2 linked regions of the Homo sapiens genome follow. The protein of the gene in region 2 interacts with the protein of the main gene of each other region in a pairwise test. Each region holds a gene or a part of one and is shown on either strand. Other genes may lie near its edges.

Region 1 (3,500 bases), on a different chromosome or scaffold from region 2:
CCAGACTCACCCTATTTTCATCCATCCAGTGCCTGGGGCCAGATAAATATTCCTAAAGTGATGTTTCCCCAAGATGTTTATTTATTTTTTTAATTTTATTTTTTTTGAGACGGAGTCTTGCTCTGCCGCTAGGTTGGAGTGCAGTGCATGATCTCAGCTCACTGCAACCTCCGCCTCCCGGGTTCAAGAGATTCTCCTGCCTCAGCCTCCCGAGTAGCTGGGACTACTACTCTCAACACCATGGTGATGTGACTGGGACTACTACTCGCATGGATGTGCATCACCATGCCGGGCTAATTTTTGTATTTTTAGTAGACACAGGGTTTCACCATGTTGGCCAGGCTGGTCTCGATCTCTTGACCTCATGATCCACCCGCCTCGGCCTCCCAAGGTGCTGGGATTACAGGCCTGAGCCACCGTGCCCAGCGGATGTTTACATTTTTTAAAGGGGGGTAGGGAGGAATTCTCTGGTCAAATAACTTTGGAAACCACAGGTGAAACCTATCTTTACTGGGCTTACTTCCTAGAGCCTGAAGGATGTTGCTGTGCATTGTGGGACTGGGCATGTAGTGTTTCCCAAACTCATTTGACATTTAAACCCCTCCTTTGAAAATTAATGTTCCTCAGAACATGCTTTGGGAACTGTTCTATAAAGCCTTGCTATCCAAAGTGTGGTCTGGGGACCAGCAGCATCAACTTCACTTGGGAGCTTGTTAGAATTGCAGACTCTTGGGCCCTTCCCCAGACCTACTAAGTTTAGCATCTGCATTTATAATATACCTGGGTGATACATTAAAGTTAGAGCCTCTAAAGTATCAAATTCTGAGGGTGTTCACTGTCACAGAATAAAACCCAAACTCCCAGCTGGGCATCTGTGGCCTTCCATGACCTGGTTCCATCTGCCTCCCCAGCCCCATTTTCTACCTGTGCTGCACCAAGAGGCAGCCTTTGATGGAAGCTCTTGGAGATGCCTTTTTAAACGGAGCTGTCCCAACACCACCCCTGGCCCACCTTGGCCCAGTGGATCTTGGGAATTTTTTTTTAATTATTTTTTATTAGAGATAGAGTCTCATTATATTGTCCAGGCTGGCCTCGAACTCCTGGGCTCAAGTGATCCTCCTGCCTTGGCCTCCCAAAGTGTTGAGATTACAAGTGTGACCCACCATGCCCAGCCCAGGGCCGTTTATTTTGTAAAAGCTCTCCAGATGGAGCCATTACCTAGCCAGACATGGGACCCCTGGAGACACCCTATTCTTTAGCTGGAAAGGGCTGATGCTTCATTAATGCCTGTCCATGGAATACTGGGTATTTGACCTATTCCTTGACCAAAGACTCATTTTTCTCATCTGCAAAATGCAGGATAATACTATTTCATAGGGTTATTTTAGAATTAACTGAGATAATAGCTAAATCATCACTTGCTGTAGATAGTTGCTGACTTAACAATGGTTCAATTTATTATGATGGTTTTATTGGTAAGTAACCCATCGTAAGTAAGCATCTGTAGAGGTTACTTACTGTTTTTTGTTGGTTTGTTTTTTTGAGACAGGGTTTTGCTCTGTCATCCAGGCTGGAATGTGTGGCTTAATTATAGCTCACGCAGCCTCAACCTCCCAGGCCCAAGTGATACTCCCACTCAGCTTCCCAAGTAGCTGGGACTACAGGTGCACGCCAGCATACTTGGCTAATTTTTGTATTTTTTTTGTAGACAGATCTCGCTGTGTTGCCAAGGCTGATCTTGAACTCCTGGACTCAAGTTGTCCTCCTACCCTCAGCCTCCCAAAGTGTTGGGATTACAGATGTGAGCCACCGCGTTCAGCCTACTTATTGCCATTTTGATTATTTGGGATCCCAGAGGAGATGAAGATGCCACTGCGGGACAAACTAGTAGGCCACCAGATGGTTGAATTAGAAGTACTGTGCCCAGATGCCGGGGGCAATGGCTTACATCTGTAATCCCAGCACTTTGGGAGGCTAAGGTAGGGGGACTGCTTGAGGCCAGGAGTTCAAGACCAGCCTGGGCAACATAGCAAGACCCTGTTTCTACAAAAAATAAAACACTTAGCTGGGCGTGGCATGTGCCCGTGGTCCTAGCTACTCAGGAGGCTGAAGTGGAAGGATCCCCTGAGCCCAGGAGTTTAAGGCCACAGGGAGCTATGATCATGTCACTGTACTCCAACCTGGATGACAGAGTGAGATCCGACCTCAAAAAAAGAAAAAAAAAAAAATGCTGTGCCCATGGCTTGCCACTCTGGCAATACTTACAATGTTTACTGTGGTTGCTGAGATTGACTGGCAGGTCTGTACCTACCCATCTGTGTCCCCAACAATCCTGGCATCCCTGATTGAGGAAGAAGGGGAGGAAAGGAGCTGGGGACAGGGCAGACCACATACCTGGTTGTTTTTCCCTTTTTGATGACATTTGCTTTGCATCTCTGGGGAGGCTTCCCAGTGGATCTAGTGGAGGCAAAGGGAATAGGCTGATGCACTGACCCCAATACCTATTACTCATAGGACCAGGCAATAGGACCCCACAGAGTTGGGGAAATTGGGGTGGGGATCAATTTCAGGAGGAACACTGAATGCAAGGAACACCTGGGCTGGGAAGGGCAGTGCTGTCTGACCAGGGGGCTATGGAAGGCTGGCAGGGTTTTAAGGAAGTTGAGGTCCCAGGGAGCTGGATAAGCATAGAGACCCTCTGGGTGGTCCAGGTTCCAGGGCCTGACCTCTTTGTGAGCCCCATCTCCTATGTCGTTGGCACTGAGAGAGAACAGGGCACCTCGGGCTCCCACCAGCAGCCTTGCTGAGGCCTCCTCCAGCAGCAGTGTTGAGTAGTTCTGGGCTTGGCCCTTGAAGTGCCGGGTCCCAGAGAGCTCTGGGGAGAGCAGGAACAGTGAGCCCTAGTTCTGGGGTGCCTCCCCACCCCCAGCCCTGGCTTCTGCTGCCTTTTGAGGTTGAGGGTCTAACCTTCATAGGGTATGGTCATCCGAGGGGTGGCATCTAGTTCTCTAGACGGTCTCCGCAGTGAGGGTCCTGGGACTGCAGTTGCTGTGAGGATGCTGAGGAGGAGGGGCCAGAGCCTCCCCCACATCTTCCTGGGGAGGCCCAGACTAACAAGACCCCCAAAGGGAGCCAGAGTCACAGGTTGTGGGGGCGGGGAATGGGAAGCACAGTCACAGGGGTCAAAGTCCAAGGAAGTCACTTGGAAGGTCAGGGGTCATAAGGTCATAGGAGTCAAGGAATCATGGGGCCATGGGGGGTCCTGGAATCGGGGGGACATGGAGTCACAGGGTTGTGTGGCCATGGAATCCCCAGCTAAGAGGTCAGAAGGAGGGAGGGATCACATGCCTTTCTGCATCAAATGCAAACTCCATGGTGAGAGGGAGTTGTGAAGTTCTAGAGGGGTTGTAGGTTACTGATGGGGTCACCCTGCCCCCGACAGTAGAGCTAGTCCTGGTTTTCTGAGGTCCGTTTTCTGAAGAAAAAACGGGGAAAAAAAA
Region 2 (3,736 bases):
ATGTGAACCCCAGACCCCTGGCTCCTAGCCGAGGTCCTGCCTGAGTCCCAACTCGGTGCCTCCTTTGTGTTCTGGGCATGTTGCACATCCTCCTTCTCTGTAAAAGGGGCTCATGAACCCCCTAAGGTGCTTCTAGCCCTGGGATTCCACAGGATGAGCAGCATCTTAAAATCCCTAGATGGGAGCGTGGCTGGCCCTGCCCCCTGCTGGCCACACGGCTCACTTGCTCTAACTGTACGTGGCTGAAGGCAAGAAAGGTCAGCCCCTCCCTGCCCCACCACAGACCCGTGGGATCAAGGGTCGGCGGCAAATATGCAGGATCTTTTGAGACCATCTCCAAGACTGGCTCTGAGACTCCTCAGGCCTTGCCAAAGCAGGAAGGGATGGAGTGACAGCAGCAGCAGCCAGGGAAGAGGAGACTTCAGAAAGGGAAACTGAGGCTCAAGGGGTTAAGTAATTTGCCCAAAATCATGCAGTTAGAAGCAACTGACATGCCTTCCAAATTCGGCCTGCCAGACCCTGAAGCCCACGCGAGTGAGGTCATAACCCCTAGTGGAAGGCACAGGAGCTGGCATTGTCAACAGTGAGCTCTCTGCACCGCAGTCCCCTCTCTGTCACTTGAGGGCTGAGCTGGGATGTAGACCAAGGAATCTCCAAGGTCCCTGCCAACTTGAACCTTCTGGGATTCTTACTCATCAGCCTACATTCTGGATTCTGCGTCCCACCCACAATATCATGATCTCTCTGGGGCTGCAGCCCAGGGCCTGCAATCCAGCCCCCAACAACGCCTTCCTCAGACAGAGCACCACTTACTTGCATGTTGGTAGTCATGTGTACAAAGCCATGCATGCTCTTGAAGTCCTTTCTGGAACAACAAGTCAGAATAGAAATAAAGAGAAATGCATGTTTGTTAAAAATGTCCATCTGATTCTATCAAGCCCTTACTTCAACCCATTAGGAGCTCTCATTGCCTCCAACTTCTTTGTCTAGATTCTACTTCTATTTATACCCCGGGACTCATTTCAGACTTTGACTTCTCAGGGAGCATCCTCGGAGCCCCCAGCCAATTAATGCCTCCTTCTGTACTACTGCTACCAGCCATTGAACAGCTACACTGTTCCAGACATTACCTCTTGTTTTATTCTCATGGCAACCCACATACCAAAGCCTGTGTGGCCTTCACAGTTGGTGTGGAAGGTGGCCCCACACTCAGAGGCTCACCTTCTCTGAGCTTAAGGTCTGAGCTACACTGCTTGGCCAGCAATCCTTTCTCTTAGGTGTGACTTGGCTTCTTTAAGCTCAAGAGCTTGCCTCTGTTCCCTTGCAGCTGTGCCCAGAACTCCAAGCCCAGCCACTTCCCCAACTGTGCAGGGCAGGCAACCAGCTTTAGGGAGGAGGTGGGTAGATGGCATGGTGGGGACAGACCCAGGGGCAGCTAATGGAGCTGGGCTTGTCTGTTCCTCAGGCCCCGGGAGAGATGACTCAGCTGCCAGTGATCAAAGCAGAGCCTCTGGAGGTGAACCAGTTCCTCAAAGTGACACCGGGTAGGTGTGTCCAGGGGAAGGGCTCTTTTCCCCTCCAGTCATAGGCAGATAGCATCCCCACTTCCTTGGTTCAGCCCATCCCTATCTCTTGACAACCTTCCCCCACCCAGAATATCCTCTCCACCCTGCCCTACCCACTGTCCCTCCATCCATGCCCACTCTTCGTCTAGTCCTCTTCGTTTTTGTTTTTTGTTTGTTTGTTTGTTTGTTTGTTTTTTGAGATGGAGTCTCACTCTGTCACCCAGGCTGGAGTACCATGGCACGATCTCAGCTCACTGCAACCTCCCCATCCCAGGTTCAAGCAATTCTCCTGTCTCAGCCTCCTAAGTACCTGGGATTACAGGTGCCCACCACCACGCCTGGCTAATTTTTGTATTTTTTAGTAGAGACGGGGTTTGGCCATATTGGTCAGGCTGGTCTTGAACTCCTGACTCAGGGGATCCACCTGTCTCAGCCTCCCAAAGTGCTGTGATTACAGGGGTGAGCCACTGCACCCAGCCTTCGTCCAGTCCTCTTCTTGCCCAATCTACTGCTGCCATCGCTCCTGCTTGCCCAGCCTGACCCTATGAGAGAGAGGCCCCAGTCACCTTCTGGGGTTGCTGAGCTAGAGCTTAGTGATCTTCTGGAGTTGCTGAGCTTAAGGCCCTGAACCCTGTGAAGTCAGAGGTCACAGAGGACCTCCCACGAATTCAGCTCCTATGATGTCTATGCCAAGGGCGAGCTTGTAAAGGAGCTGGGCCTCTGTGGTGTCAGATGAGGCAGCACCCAGGAATTGGCTACCCAGATGTCAACTGTCTTTCTGACCCTGCAGAGGGGCTTCTGATGTCATAGCTGAGACCAAGCGCCTGGCAGTCCGTGTCCCACAATGTCAGGGCTGGTGCAAGCTCATGCTCAGCTGAACTCATGATGTCCAAGTGGAGCTGATGTGCAACGTTGCTAACTCGGTTTCCCCTGCTCTCCCCAGAGGACCTGGTGCAGATGCCTCCGACGCCCCCCAGCAGCCATGGCAGTGACAGCGACGGCTCCCAGAGTCCCCGCTCTCTGCCCCCCTCCAGCCCTGTCAGGCCCATGGCGCGCTCCTCCACGGCCATCTCCACCTCCCCACTCCTCACTGCCCCTCACGTAAGGAGCTGGGGGTGGGCTGATCCCAGAAATGAGGAATTGAATACATCCACCTGAGCACACTGGCCAGTCAGGAGGGTTTGGGGAGCCCCGAGACTGATCCCCACCCTCATCAGAATTCAGAGGGATGCTTACCTGGCAGATGGGAGTTCTAATCCTTTTATTTTTGAGTCTTGCTCTGTTGCCCAGGCTGGAGTGCAGTGGCTCAATCTCGGCTCACTGAAACATCTGCCTCCCAGGTTCAAGCAATTCTCCTGTCTCAGCCTCCCAAGTAGCTGGAATTACAGGCACTTGCCACCGTGTCTGGCTTTTTTTTGTTTGTTTTTTTTTTTTGAGATGGAGTCTCGCTCTGTCGCCTGGAGTGCAGTGGCACGATCTCGGCTCACTGCAACCTCCACCTCCAGGGTTCAAGTGATTCTCCTGCCTCAGCCTCCCGAGTAGCTGGTATTACAGGTGCACACCACCACCCAGCTAATTTATGTACTTTTAGTAGAGACAGCATTTCACCATGTTGGCCAAGCTGGTCTCAATCTCTTGACCTCTTGATCTGCCCACTTCAGCCTCCCAAAGGGCTGGGATTACAGGCGTGAGCCACCGCATCTGGTCAGGAATTCAAATCCTTTCGCCCTGCCTCATGGTGAACAGGAGACTATTGCAGAGCCAGGACTAGAACTTGACATTCCTGACCTCCAGGGGATGACCCAGGCTGCCTCCAAGGAGCGCTGTGTGAGGGGAAGTGCCCAGATGGTCCAGAATCCCCAGGAAACATGGAGCTAGGCCCTGAGCCCTGGGATGGGTGTGGAGTCTCCCAAGCCAAGATTGTAGGGAGGGGTCTGAGGGAGATGCTGTTTGGGGCACCCTGGACAAGTAAGCTTTGAGGGTGCAGTCTCAGGGATGGGATCCAGGAAGCCCTCCCGAACAATGCACTAAGAGCCTAACACCTGAGCTCTCAGCATGGCCCTGGCACCTGACACATGTTACTGAATTTCACCCAGATCCACTCCCTTTCCAGATGAGGAAACTGAGGCATAGAGCATTGTGTGCCTTGCCCAGGTCATATAGATAGCACA

The links.
Region 1: the proteins of CREB3L1 (region 2) and SEMA4G interact in binary tests that used the Homo sapiens proteins (3 or more experiments, as listed by UniProt).

Annotation. Positions count from the first base shown.
Region 1 is NC_000010.11:100,972,504-100,976,003, reverse strand, and holds part of SEMA4G (semaphorin-4G isoform 1 precursor), read right to left. Parts: intron 3,476-3,500; 5' UTR 3,092-3,475; coding exon 2,968-3,091; intron 2,876-2,967; coding exon 2,727-2,875; intron 2,458-2,726; coding exon 2,395-2,457; intron 1,020-2,394; exon of another isoform or gene 920-1,019; intron 1-919. UniProt on the Homo sapiens protein: Cell surface receptor for PLXNB2. May play a role in axon guidance.
Region 2 is NC_000011.10:46,308,524-46,312,259, forward strand, and holds part of CREB3L1 (cyclic AMP-responsive element-binding protein 3-like protein 1), read left to right. Parts: intron 1-1,465; coding exon 1,466-1,544; intron 1,545-2,508; coding exon 2,509-2,666; intron 2,667-3,736.